Regions from separate parts of the Homo sapiens genome. Here all the other regions are linked to region 2. Evidence: fine-mapped expression QTL. A gene starts in region 2. Each other region holds a variant in brackets. All regions are shown on one strand. Distances are between the middles of the regions.

Region 1 (4,240 bases), 200 kb before region 2:
CTACCTATTAAAGCACAGTAAGACTTTATTTAGGACCATCATGACAGGTACGGGGACCACAGCAATGGGGACTTGTAGTAGGGGAGAGAGACTGGACTCAGCTCTGAATACACCATGGAAAACTGGGGATTTATAGACAGGGAACAGGGTCAGGGGCAGTGGATGGAAGATTACCAAGAGGAAATATCAGGGAGCATTCATCTAAACCGACCTAACAGGATTCTAGCTGAAGGCAGGCCAGTTGACCAGACATCACCTGGGGGATGGTGGAGGCTGAGGAGCCTGATCAGATACTGAGGTTGAACAGATATGGGGGGGTTAGGTGTTCTTGCTAAACTGACCTAATAGACTTCTTGCCAAAACTAGATTTTACAAGGAAGTGCCCAGATTGGGCCTGGGAGAAGGTTGAGGAGCTTGGCTAAAGTTTGGCCAAGTGGAGAATCTTTGTCCATGAAGCCTCAGATGGATGTGAGGTCCGTAGAGGTCAGACAGCTATGATTTAAGAGGTTTTGAGCATTTGCATCACACATCCCATTCTCTAGGCATTAAAGAGAAGGCAACAAGGCTTTAGCTTTTAGAAGTATCCATGTAATCAACACCTTTCCTCCCGGGCATGTCGGCTCCCTATGGCCACGCACTCTCCAGCAGCCTCTTTATGGACACTTTTTGTCATTTTAAGAGAATAGCTCGATCGAATGAGAGCCGATCCTAGTCCCAATACCATGCCCTTCTCACTCCAATTTCTTACTGTTTCGGGGTTTGTTCTGATACTAGTTTGGTTTTCCAAAGGAATCCAGTTGAAACAAAGAGAAGAGAGAATAATACTTTTCAAATCAAATTTCTGCCCCAGGTATTTGTAGAGCAAAGCAGCTGCTTCACCAGGGTAGGATACCTTCCCCAGGGCCCAGTAAGACTTTCATGGGCCACAAAGGCAAAACATATTAAATATATTTTAATATATAAATATATAAAGTAAAAACATATTAACATACTATTTTATGACTATGTTGGTGCAAATACCAATATGATTTTCAATCCCCAATGTTCATTTCCTTTTCTTCTGATTATAAAATAAAACATTTTTGTAGGCCCCTTAAAAGGCCTTAGAGAGTGTGCCTTATGGGTAATAATCGGGCCTTTTCCCACTCTCGGATCATGGAGGTCGGAGCTATTTTATGTCTTATTCTTCTCTGCATTTCTCAGCCTCTCTCTTGAGCTAAGAAAGTTGACGAATCTTTGCAGAACTGGAACTTGTATTCCCCATTGCTTGACATCAAGTTGGAAATGTAGTAAACATTCCCCACATTGTTGAATTGAGTCACGATAGAAAGCAGGGTATTAGCGCACAGCATTTTTAATTGCCAAGGAAAATTTTATTTTAGCTTTGCATTAACATATTCTAAATAATCCTTTCACTTAATGCAATCAGATTCCTGTGACAAGCCAAATACTTGTTTTTTTGTGTGTGTGTGTTTCCCCTTCACTTTTCATTGTATGCCCTTCAGAAAAATCTGAGAAGTGGGCTTCCATTTTTGAAAAACAGGACTTCCTTAGTACCATAGATACGTAGATTGCAATTTTGCTTTTCCTGCAGCATTACTGACCTTGTGAAATGATGCCTATGTATACGTCATTAATCTATTTGCTTAACTTTTAATATCTAGTAATGCTAGAAATACAAGAATTTTTTAAAAGAATTTGCTTAAAGCTTCAAAACTCACTAAGGTTTGGATATGCAACTCCACAGGTAATATGAATGAGATG[C/T]TTTGTAAACAAGCAGCCATGCCTTACAGCCTGCAACAAACAAGCAAACAAACAACAAAACTATGCCTTAAAGAAGGTTTGTGAGGTTTCTCCTGGACAAAGGAATTCCAATTTCCTGTTTTACATTCAAATCAAAACTTTCAGATGGTAAATGGTTTGAAATTTAAGATGACTACAGTTACCACAAATCGACCTGATTTCCAAATGTCCTGAAATGTGATCTCAATTATTTTGAGGCACTTTTAAACTCAATGTATTTGCATCTAGAGATATACTTCATCCTTCATTTGCTATTGACATTTTACAGGTTAAATAACTGGTTCTAGACACAAATAGGCATTCATATAATCTATAAAGGCTCTTCAAGTTATTTAATCCTGCAGCATTTCCACATCATCAAGTGTTTTCAGAAAGTCTTACTTGCATTGAATATGTTAGACTTTGAGTAAACATTGTCATCTTATAGGATAAATTTATAATAGTGCCTTTAAATAGTTTCCACATGACAGCATCAGTAGCAATCCTAACACATCATCAGTAAGCTAGTACCCTCTCTAAGAATGTTTTCTAAAGCAAGAATACAGATTATCCCACAATTTCTGGAACGAGAAATCCAAGTTAAAAGGAAGAATCTTGTATGCTTTTCAGCTTTCAACAACTCTGGAGGTAGGGGGTAGGAATCACTTCTTTCTTCTCTTTCTTTTTTTTTTTTTTTTTTAGAAAGAGAAGCAAAATTAACGTTTGAAATAGAAGAACTTAAAGGGCAACTGGGGAAATGCTGTCAAATCCTCCCAGCCCAATAGTATGCCCCTCTTGCTCCAACTTCCCAGGGTTGTGGGTAGGGATAGAGAAATTATAGCCAACTTTCAGAAAGCCCAAGTCATGGCTAACATTCTCTGCAAACCGCTGTGTGGGTTACATTACAGGTGTCCCATTCATGGGCACTGTCTTGGAATTGAGCAAACTCTGGGCAAATAGAAGGTGGTCAGACAAGTCCACAAAAGAGATAAATGCATAAGCAGGTGGATGGCAGCTTCTCTCGATTTTGCCATAAAGGAATCCAATCACATTGTTGGGGAAAGTCTTATATCTGAAGAAATGATTGCACTTTACATTCCATAGGAGGCTTTCCTCAGGATGGGCTGGTGGTTTAGACTTTGAAACTATCTCCAGCTGTGCCACTACGAGGCCCTCTCCTAGGCGATCAGTTGCGCATTTTCCCTGATTTACAGGGGCTTGGGGGAAATGGGATGAAAACAAAATCATGCATCTCATTGTGGATTGGAAGCACAGAAATTTCTCAGTCACAAAACTTGCATACATGACTGTTCTCTGATGACTAACTAGAACTAAAGGAAATTATGCTTATGTGTATAGATCATGGATTGCTTGTGAGTGATTTTTGTTCCCCTCCAAATATCAGAGACTTTCTAGGCCAATGATTCTGAATTACACTGGAAGAGATTCCATGAACCACAGCATCTCCACAGTGGGCTTTTAATTCAGAACTTCCATTCCCCAAAGAAAACAGTGGAATCCAAGAATTATACTACAAATTATGGAATGGAAAGCAGTTCAGGAGAGATTTGCCTTGGGATTATTATTACTGTAAAATTTTGCAAAAAATCATTGTGCAAAGAAATCTATTTGTGAGCTTCTACTGTATTTACTTAAATAGTGTTAAGCTTCTAGGTCCCTATTTTAGACATCTTAACCCTTTTGAGGAAAGAATATACTGTATGTGTGTGTGTGTATGTATGCATAACTATATATATGATGAAGAGCAAGCATTTGATATGTGTTTTAACTAATACCAGTAATAATGACTTGCCTTCCAATAACCAAAGTGGAACTTACCATCATCTATTATTCCTAAAGAAGATCTTTCATTCACCTTAAAGTTACTTATGTTTAGACGACTAAACTCTTTTTTATGTGATTGCCTTTTTATTATGCTGGTTATTGCATCACTGCAGATTATAGAGTAAATGGTAACTTATACTGTTGACATAGGTATTTGCTGAGGGGTGAGTTAAGGTACCTCCTGCACCTTTCTGTTTTAAGATTGCCTTCTGCACCTTTTTGTCATCTGCTTGCACTGGTGTGCCTTGTGAATGCCCCTCTATTCATTCTATTTCCATGAGTCCAAGACTCTGGCCACAGAAGGCATAAACCTACCATCTTCCTGTCTGTATACTACAGACCTTATCCCCCTCACCCCTCCAGTTGAGTAGCTGTTGAGCTCTGGCCCAAGCCTTCAGGTGATAAAATGGAGAATCAGTCCAAATCCAAGGTGTAGATGGAGTTATGTTTCCCCAGTGCCACTCTCAGGCGTGTTTGTAGTGAAGATGGTGAGCTTTGCCACATGCGTCTGTCTGGTCCCCAGGCGCTGCTAGCGGCTCAGTCTCTTATCCTGTTTTTCTCTATCACACTGGCAAGACAGGCCGGTGGAAGGACAGCACAGCTGAAGCCAGGG
Region 2 (4,245 bases):
TGTCTCATAAAAGAAGAAAGAAAAAAGAAAAATACTCTTTTTTAATTTAATGACTAAACAGAAATGTGAGGTGGTTACAATACCAAAAAAATAACAGTAACTCTGACATGTGTGCATCCATTTGTTTCCAGAGAATGGAAGGAAACTGGGAGGGAGAATTCTACAGACTCCAGGTGGGAAATACTGTCATACTTACTGTAGGTACCACAGCTATGTGTGTGCAATGCATCTATTATGGAATTGTGTTCCCAAAAATATATGTTGGAGTCCTCATCCCCGCTACCTCAGAATGTGACCTTATTTGGAAACAGGATTTTGTCAGAGGTAATCAAATTAAAATGTAGTTATTAGGGTGGTCCTTAGTCCAATAAGAATCGTGTTCTTATAAAAGGAGAAAATTTGGACACAGAGACACACACAGAGGGAAGACGATAGGACAAGATACAGGGAAAGGAAAGCAGGTTCAAGCTGAGGAGAAAGACCTGGAATAGGTCCTTTCCTCACAGCCCTCAGAAGGAATTAAGACTGCTGACATCTTGATCTAGGACTTCTGGCCTCCAGATCTGTGACACAATACACATCTGCTGTTTAGGTTACTTAGTCTGTGGTATATTACTATGGCAGCTGTAGTAAACTAATACAGAAACCACGAACGACTGTATTTGAGGCGCAAGTCCCTACCTAATTTGCTCATAAATTGCCTTCTCTGAAATCCCGTGTCCTCAAAGGGAAATCACGATTGCATTAAATGGGGGAAGCTCTCTTATAGTACCACCTCTAAGAACACATAATTTTATTGACTATATATTATGCACTGGTACTAAGGGCTTGGCCTGCCTCACCTCCTTTATCACCTCCATTTTACCCAGGAGGAAACAGACACAGGTGCACTTTGTCTATCATAGATAATAATTCTTGCTGAATCCAGGCATGCCCCTGTCCACTATGTCTGCACTAAACTAGAAATACACTCTCATGTTTACACCTTTTTTTTTTTGTCTTTTTCCCCTTTTGTGGAGAACAGGGTCTCGCTATATTGCCCAGGCAGTTCTTAAACTTCTGGGCTCAAACTATTCCCCCAACTCCCACTTCTGCCTCCCTAAGTACTGGGATTACAGGTGTGGGCCACTGCGCCCAGCACACCCTCACGTTTTTAAAGTCTTGAAATTCTCCTATTTCCGCTTCTCAAAAGGTCCAATCCTTTTCCTTAAACGTGAATATACCACATAAACGAACACGAAATAGAAACAGGGACAAAAAAGTATTTTTTTGACGATGGCAAACGGGAAAAAAAAAAAAGAAAGCTGTTTAGGTGGCATTTGAAAAGTTAAAAAAGAAAGAAAACTCAGAGCAGCCCAAAAGACAGATGATACCTAAGAAGGCACAACCAGCAAGACATGTTGACTGTTAGTATTATTTCAGCATCCTCCTTGAGCAGCTTGGCTTTGCTCTGGGACAATGCACCAGCCTGGGATGCTCAGAGATGCAGGCACGGAGGTTGTGCAGCCTCTCCGCACACTGCGCATGCGCGGCTGCCGGTTCAAGTCGCGGTCCAGGACCGCAAGGAGGCGGGCAAGCGAAACTGAGAAAAACCCACCCACGGTCCAGGGACTGGGGGCTCGGGCGAACCCACCCAGGGACCTCCTGACCAAGGCCATTTGTCTGCAACCTGATGGCTAGAAGTGATACCACCCTGAGCATCTTCAATCCCCTTTCCCCACTCTACAGCCCCTTGTACTGTCCCTCCTTCCTCATTCACACCCCTGATCCAAACTCAAGCACTGAATTTGTCCCCAGACGAGGGCCTCGGCTCTGCGCGGCCGCTGGCTGAGTAGCTTGGCCCGATTCCGGGTGTGAAGTGAGGAGGAATTGATGCGGGTAAACATACAGCGCCGGCCCGCGCCGCATCCCGGGTCTGCAGCTACAGCTGCGGCGAAAGCCCAAGGTGCGCGTGCGCGGAGCGCCACTAGGCAGCCCAGGACGCGCGGGCTCGGAGCCGGGCGAGGGGCCGCGGAAGGCGCGTGCGCAGAGCGACCCCGGGCGCGCGAGAAGGTCCTCAGTGCGCGTGCGCGGGGCGGGCGGGTGCGCGCGCACTTCCTCCTCGCCCCCACCCAGACCCAGAAGGCGCCACCATGGCGGCGCCCCCGCAGCCCGTCACCCACCTCATCTTTGACATGGACGGACTTCTTCTGGGTGGGTAGTGTGCAGCCGCCGCCTCCAGTAAGGGCGGTCTTGTGTGGGCGTGGGGACGGTCGGCGCGGGGTACGTCACGGCCTGGGGGCCGCGGCGGGGCGGTGTTCATGCAGGGACGCTCGGGCTCCCGCGCGCTCTGCCCCCGGCTGGCCCCGAAGTCGGGCGGCGGCCAGGAGCGCCCGCGGGCCCATGTCCGGGCTGGCGGGCGCGCGTGGCCGCGGCGTCTACGCGGCCCCAGCACCCGCTTCCGGTCGGCGGCCCGCGCGTGGGGCCGGAGCACGTGGGAGCAGTCCCTGGGGTCCACCGGGCGGGCGCGCGGCTCCGCGTCCTCTCCTCAGAGCGAGGCGCGGCGGGACCTCCGCGCTCTCTTTTCGGTTACGCATGCGTGCGACCTTGAGCGGTGCCCAGCCTCAGCTTCCCCGTCTGCAAAGTAGCCTGGAGGATACTTGCCTGCCTGCTCCAAGGTTGCTGCTGTGGGCGCACTTTGATGGTAGCATCCTGCATGGTAGCGGTTCTCTACCTGGCGGTTTTGCAGCCCTGAGGGCATCTGGCAATGGCGATGTCAGGAGACATTTTGGCTGTCACAGCTGGCGAGGAGTGATGGGGTCACTGGCATCTAGTGGAGTCCAGACCAGTGATACTGTTAAACTTCCCGCAGTGCACAGGAGTGCCCTATGCAACCATAAGGAATTATCCCGCGCCGTCAACAGTGTAGAGGCACAGAAGGTCCGTCAAGTGGCCTGGCTGCCTAGGGTGACCAGCACCGGGGACATCACCTGTGGGCTACTTGTAAATGTAGAAGCTGGGGCCCCACCCTACCCCTGCCCAATCAGAATCTGCATTTTAAGCGCGTGAACGTTTGAGAACAGCTGCTCTATCAATCCGAGGCATTAAGAAACCCTTGGCAGTGTACTAAGGTAGTCAGTCTTAGCACATGTGAACTTCACCAGCCAAGAGGAATTCAAGTAGAATTCAAAGAATAAAACCCTGTTTTTAACTCAAGACAGAACTATGCTGAGCTCTACCGAAAGCCTTGACACAGTTAACACTATGACACATAATCACCAGGAGGCTTCATATATCTATAAACATGTCTGCATACTCTTTGTAGACAGCTGACCTGCTTGGTTACGTATATCATTCCTTCATTTCAAAACCCTGCAAGTTAGGAGGAAGTATTTGCATGTCACTAATTAAAAAAAAAAAAAAAAAAAAAACCCTGCAGCTCAGAGAGGTAAAGCTACTTGCCCAAGGTCACACAGCTAATAAGCCAAGCTGAGAAACGATTCTGGATTGATCCAGTTCTAAATATAAATGATGTTGAGCTCATCTTAAATTGTGAATGTGACCTTGTTTCTGCTCATCATATTGCTGGGTAATTCCCTAGCAGTGTTTCCTTTTAAAAAGGCATGCAGAAACCATTCTCTTCATTTTATGAACACAGAGGTGTAAACTGATGAATTCCAAAGGAAAAAAAAAATCCCCGTAGAGGTCACTAATTGGAGCCAACGGTGTATGCAGCTACTAAATTTGAAATGACTCAATTTCAGAAAGCTTGTGGGATACATAGGTATAGTTTGTAGACATGAATTTTCCTACTCCGGTGGTCAAAAAGTTAAATTGTCAAATAAATTTCTTATCCTCTAATAAAGGTCCAGAGAACCTGTTCTGGGAGTCTCATGAATTTTAATACCAAACAAGATGTCTCATTAAAATTAAATTTATTAAACTTCTAAATGAGCTTGGTGCCTAATTCTGATTCTAGATTCACACATAGCCATGCCCTGAAGTGATGAATGTGACTTAAATGGCATTACAAGCATTGACCTCACATTGTTACCCAATCCTCTGATCTAGTCAGATAACCAAGAATTAGTGCTATTTGGAAAAATAAGCCCTGCTTCTTTTTATTCCCCCCCCTCATTTTCTGCCCATTTCCTCCTTTCCTGCCCTACCTCTTCTTTGAGGTGGTAAGGCCTTGCAAAACTTTCTTGGAAATATACCTTTGTTTATCCCATTCTTTCACCAAATGTGTAAATATAAAACACAGCT
Region 3 (4,245 bases), 110 kb after region 2:
TCAAATCTGCCTTTCTTTTAAAAATATCTGTTGTGAGATATTCAAAGGAAAACCTTCCTTCATTAGAAATGAAGGGACACACCTGTAATCCCAGCACTTTGGGAGGCCAGGGCAGAAGATCGCTGAGCTGAAAAGTTTAAGGTCAGCCTGGGCAACATAGGGAGACCCAATCAATACAAAAAAACTTAAAAATTAGCGGGGCATGGTGGCAAACACCTGTAGTCCCAGCTACTCAGGAGGCTGATGCAGGAGCATCACTTGAGCCCAGGAGTTCAAGGCTGCAGTGAGCTATGATTGTGCCACTATACTCCAGCCTGGGCAACAGAGCAATACTCCATCAATCAATAAATAAATAAATACAGAAATAGACCCCATCTCTAAATAAATAAATGCATACATAAGTGAATGAATGAAATGAAGGAACAATCCGAGGAAAGAACGATATTCATCCCAATGGGATCTTGAGCTCTGAGTAAACCTAGGATTTTCTTCCATCCTTTAAATGTATGACTTTTTTCCTATAATTTCCTTTTTGCTGTTTTAATAGAAGTATATAGTAACATGAAGTGACTAAGTAATATGTATTAATTTCTTCCCAATCACAATGGTATGAGTTTTGAGAATAATATTGGTCTATTTATCAATTTTGAGCTTTTTTTCCCTACCCATTGCACTATACTACTGGGAAGAATCCCTGTTCTTTTTAAACCTTTTAGTTTGTTTACATCAGTCAAATGCTACAAGCAAGAGGTATCAAAACTAGTGTCTTTCTGTAATCTCTCAGAAATCTACACACTTCACCTAATTTTAATTATTTTTAAGGATTATATTAAGCATCATGAAAATGAAAAGAACCCCCTATGTGTTCACTGTTGGGGGCTCTGAAGGTGATTTATACAACAAATCAGAATCCTCTTTCGTGTATTGCCAGCCTACGTCACATAGCCCAGATGGATGCTCCCTAATATTTCATGTAAATATGTGCTATGCTCACCTGGGCCAAATGTCTGCTCCACTCATCTGGGCCAACATTTTGGGAACTCCCAAGAGAAGGCTTTCTGCACAACAGCATGTTGAGCTCAAGTGGGAAAAATGTACTCTATAGCACAGATAAAATGGGAGGGAAAGAATAAAATGGAAATTAAGGTAAAAGGATATATATATATCTGCATCCTCTGGTGCATTTCAATCAAATAGCTTAGAATTGAATGTGGCTGTCTATATAAGCAATCTAATTGTTTTGGATTAAAGAAAAAAAATGATGGCTATATACATCATTCTCATAGAATTACAGTTCCTCATCAGGTTTGTTCTGTAGCTCCTCATCCTCATTAACAGCATTTTTGCATAGTCTGTCCTTATATAGCATTAAAACTGCCATCATTATACTGGTAAAATTTTCTGTGCCTTATACCTGTGACTTTTTGGATTTGAGTAGATTAGACATTCTCTTCAGTCCTCCCCTCACCCCATGAGATTCATTGGAAAGAAAAAAAAAGGAATGAATTTGAAAGAAGGAATTTATCTTTTCTTTTCAAATGGTAGTATAAGTATATTTTTGTCTCATTTCCTTTATGAAACCAATCCAAAGCAAACAAGAGAATAAGAAACAAACAAATGTTATCTTTGATGAAGCTACAGATCCCCTATAACCCTGGATCACAGTAGATGCAGGAAGATAGCCAAGTGTATGAAAAGTGGATGGAGGTATTTGGGAACTCCAAGAGAAGGTGTCTGTCTATGTGTGACTCAGGCAGAGTGGACCCAGTTCATAGTTATCCAAAGTGGTTGGGTGGCACACATTGAAAGGAAATGTGTTTATCCCATGCTTAGAAAGTTAAGATCAAGGTTCATGTCCTGGTTTTGGAAGCCTACATCATGTTTCAATCATGGCATAGGATAGAAGGAAGAGTCAATAAGATAAAAGCTACCTGGCCATCTTTGCCCAAAGCTGCCTGGTGAAGATAAGTCAAGGTAAAATAATCACATTAAAATGTTCTGTAAAATGCACAGCCTCCTTGTGAGCC[T/C]GGAAGATGTCCTGCTATGCTGGACCAGATAACCCACAGGCCAAGTCCAGCTGAGAAAAATCCCAGAGATAACAGACTGAAACCAATCTTCCCATTTGTTTAGCACATTCCTCTTCCCCTTTCCCCAGAACTTTGCCCAAAATTCTAGTCCAAAAAGATGAGGAACAGTGCTACTTAAAAAGGGTGGAGCCAGCCGGGGGCCTTTAAAATGATGCTGAAATGAAAAAAGAAGAACAGAACATGATTTATGAAGATGAGAACCGGAAAGATTGTATACCACAACGCAGCCAAAAACCGTGAACAAAGTTATTTCTAAGGAATCAATTAAAGACAATATTGTTTCTCTGAAATGAGAATTTAAAGAAGCAATATAAGGCTTTAAGGAAGAACTGATAATACATTAGGTTAGACGGGAATGAAAAGTGAGTGGGTAAAGCCTCAGAAATAAATTACTAATAAATGAGAATGAAAAGGGAGCAGACAGAGTCTTGGAAACAAATTAGAAACAAATGAGAATAAAAACGGAATAGGCAGAGCCTCAGAATCTCAGAGAGAGAGACACAAAAAGAGACCAAAATCAAAGGTCATGATAGAAGCAGCAAAAAGGAGATGAGACACCACTGAAAGAATTTGAAGGATGGTTTTGAGAAGAAAAAATGAGCATGTGAGATGGAAAAGAACAAAAAGTAAAAGATGGAAGACAGAGATAGAGAAAAAGAGGGGGATGGGAGGGGGTGGTAGGGAAGAGATCAAATATCTATAACACTAAATGCCTTGCATGGGTTAAAAAATGAATGGAACATGAAAACAAATTTTCAAAGATACAATTCAAGGTGAAATTCCTGAAATACAATGAAATTTGAATCTGCAGACAGAAATAGCCCAAGAATTACAAGGCTGTGTTTATATTGAATAATTAACAAATATCCCAATAAATTCCTGGTATTTGAAGTTATGGAAAGAATTCTGTGGATATTCAAAAAAAACAAAAACCTAGGAGGCTAAGATTTCTTTATGTGACACATGAAATGCTAGAAGACAGTGGGGCAAGATATAAAAAGTCCTTGTCCCTTTTGTGTTGCTATAAAGAATACCTGAGGCTGGATAATTTATAAAGGAAAAGGGATGATTTGGCTTATGATTCTGGTGGCTGGAAAGTTCAAAATTGGGCATCTTTGTCTGGTGATGGCCACAGCCTGCTCCCACTCATGGCAGAAGAGGAGGGGAAGCCAGCATGTGCAGAGATTACATGAGCGAGGAAGCAAGAGAGAAACCGGGGAGGTGGCCCGCTCTTTTAACAACCAGGTCTTGCAGGAACTAATAGAGGAAGAATTCATTCACCATCAGGAGAGGACATTAATCTATTCAATGGGAGGGATCTGTCCCCATGACCCAAACAGCTTCTATTAGGCCCAGCCTCCAATATTGGGGACTAAATTTCAACATGAGCTTTGGAAGGATCAAATATCCAAACCTTAACAGTCCTCAGGGAAAGAAAATGTGCCCCAAGAATGCAACCAAACAAACTTCCATAAACTTCAAAGGCTACAAATAGCTATGTACAAACATACAACTCAGGAAATATATATTCATGAAGAAAACAAATGAGTAAAGGCTGGATCCTCAGCAACTGAGAGGAGCTGTGTCTAAAAGATTTCTTGTAATCTTTAAGGATGCATTATGGTTAAATCTGTGGAAATTATGGTCCCAGAGAAGAAAACAAATACCATCAACTGTGACAATGTAGAGATAATGTAACCAATTAAAAATAAAATAGCAAGTGCAGTTGAAACTGAAATTGACATCAAGGGGACACTGATTTTCTCATTTTTAGTTCCAAGATTCCAATATACATTGTTTTAAAACTTATATCAGGCAAAACTGCATGTACAGCATGTGTATTCATTTCAGAAAAATAATTGCATAAGTGGTTAATGACACCAGGAAACCTAATTTTTGCAGACTATGTATATATTACCTCAAAATAAGAATATTATAGCATTATATTCATTTTAAGAATATTTAGTAATAAACCCATATATATCGTATAAAAAGTTATAGTCTATTTTGTTCCAATACAATAAAAATCATTGATATTAATTAAGCAACTTCTATACAGAAGGTGGGTGGTTTTCAACTGTGAGTCTGTTTTGTCTTAAGGAAGTTAATATCCCTTAATCCAAACTTTCAAAATAGTGTTCAAGGAACAGGAATGTTA

Alleles and levels. Alleles are on the strand shown, and positions count from the first base shown. SD is a standard deviation of normalised expression in the study named. Not every link is listed here.
As copies of C replace T in region 1, the expression in aorta of the gene that starts at base 2,534 in region 2 goes up (small effect, 0.32 SD a copy in GTEx).

What was found. PIP is the estimated chance that this variant, and not a neighbour inherited with it, causes the effect.
Region 1: its variant is fine-mapped to the expression of STS in aorta (GTEx, PIP 0.99). The same link has a PIP of 0.9 or more in tibial artery.
Region 3: its variant is fine-mapped to the expression of STS in whole blood (TOPMed, PIP above 0.99).

What each region holds. Positions count from the first base shown.
Region 1 is chrX:7,350,178-7,354,417 of GRCh38, reverse strand. It overlaps STS (steroid sulfatase), which reads right to left. Exons shown (of 11, transcript NM_001320752.2): 11 at 1-4,240. The coding sequence ends at 4,157. Among named protein-coding and RNA genes, the nearest start is that of PUDP, 200 kb to the right of the region's middle. The variant C/T (reference allele first, on the strand shown) is at 1,765.
Region 2 is chrX:7,146,001-7,150,245 of GRCh38, reverse strand. STS (steroid sulfatase) reads right to left here and starts at 2,534. Exons shown (of 11, transcript NM_001320752.2): 1 at 2,163-2,534. It overlaps PUDP (pseudouridine 5'-phosphatase), which reads left to right and starts at 2,093. Exons shown (of 4, transcript NM_012080.5): 1 at 2,093-2,193. The coding sequence starts at 2,133. MIR4767 (microRNA 4767) reads right to left here and starts at 2,386; the gene lies at 2,309-2,386. RefSeq lists an enhancer at 1,614-1,663 and a silencer at 1,854-2,573.
Region 3 is chrX:7,035,044-7,039,288 of GRCh38, reverse strand. It overlaps a transcript of PUDP not described here. Among named protein-coding and RNA genes, the nearest start is that of STS, 110 kb to the left of the region's middle. The variant T/C (reference allele first, on the strand shown) is at 2,028.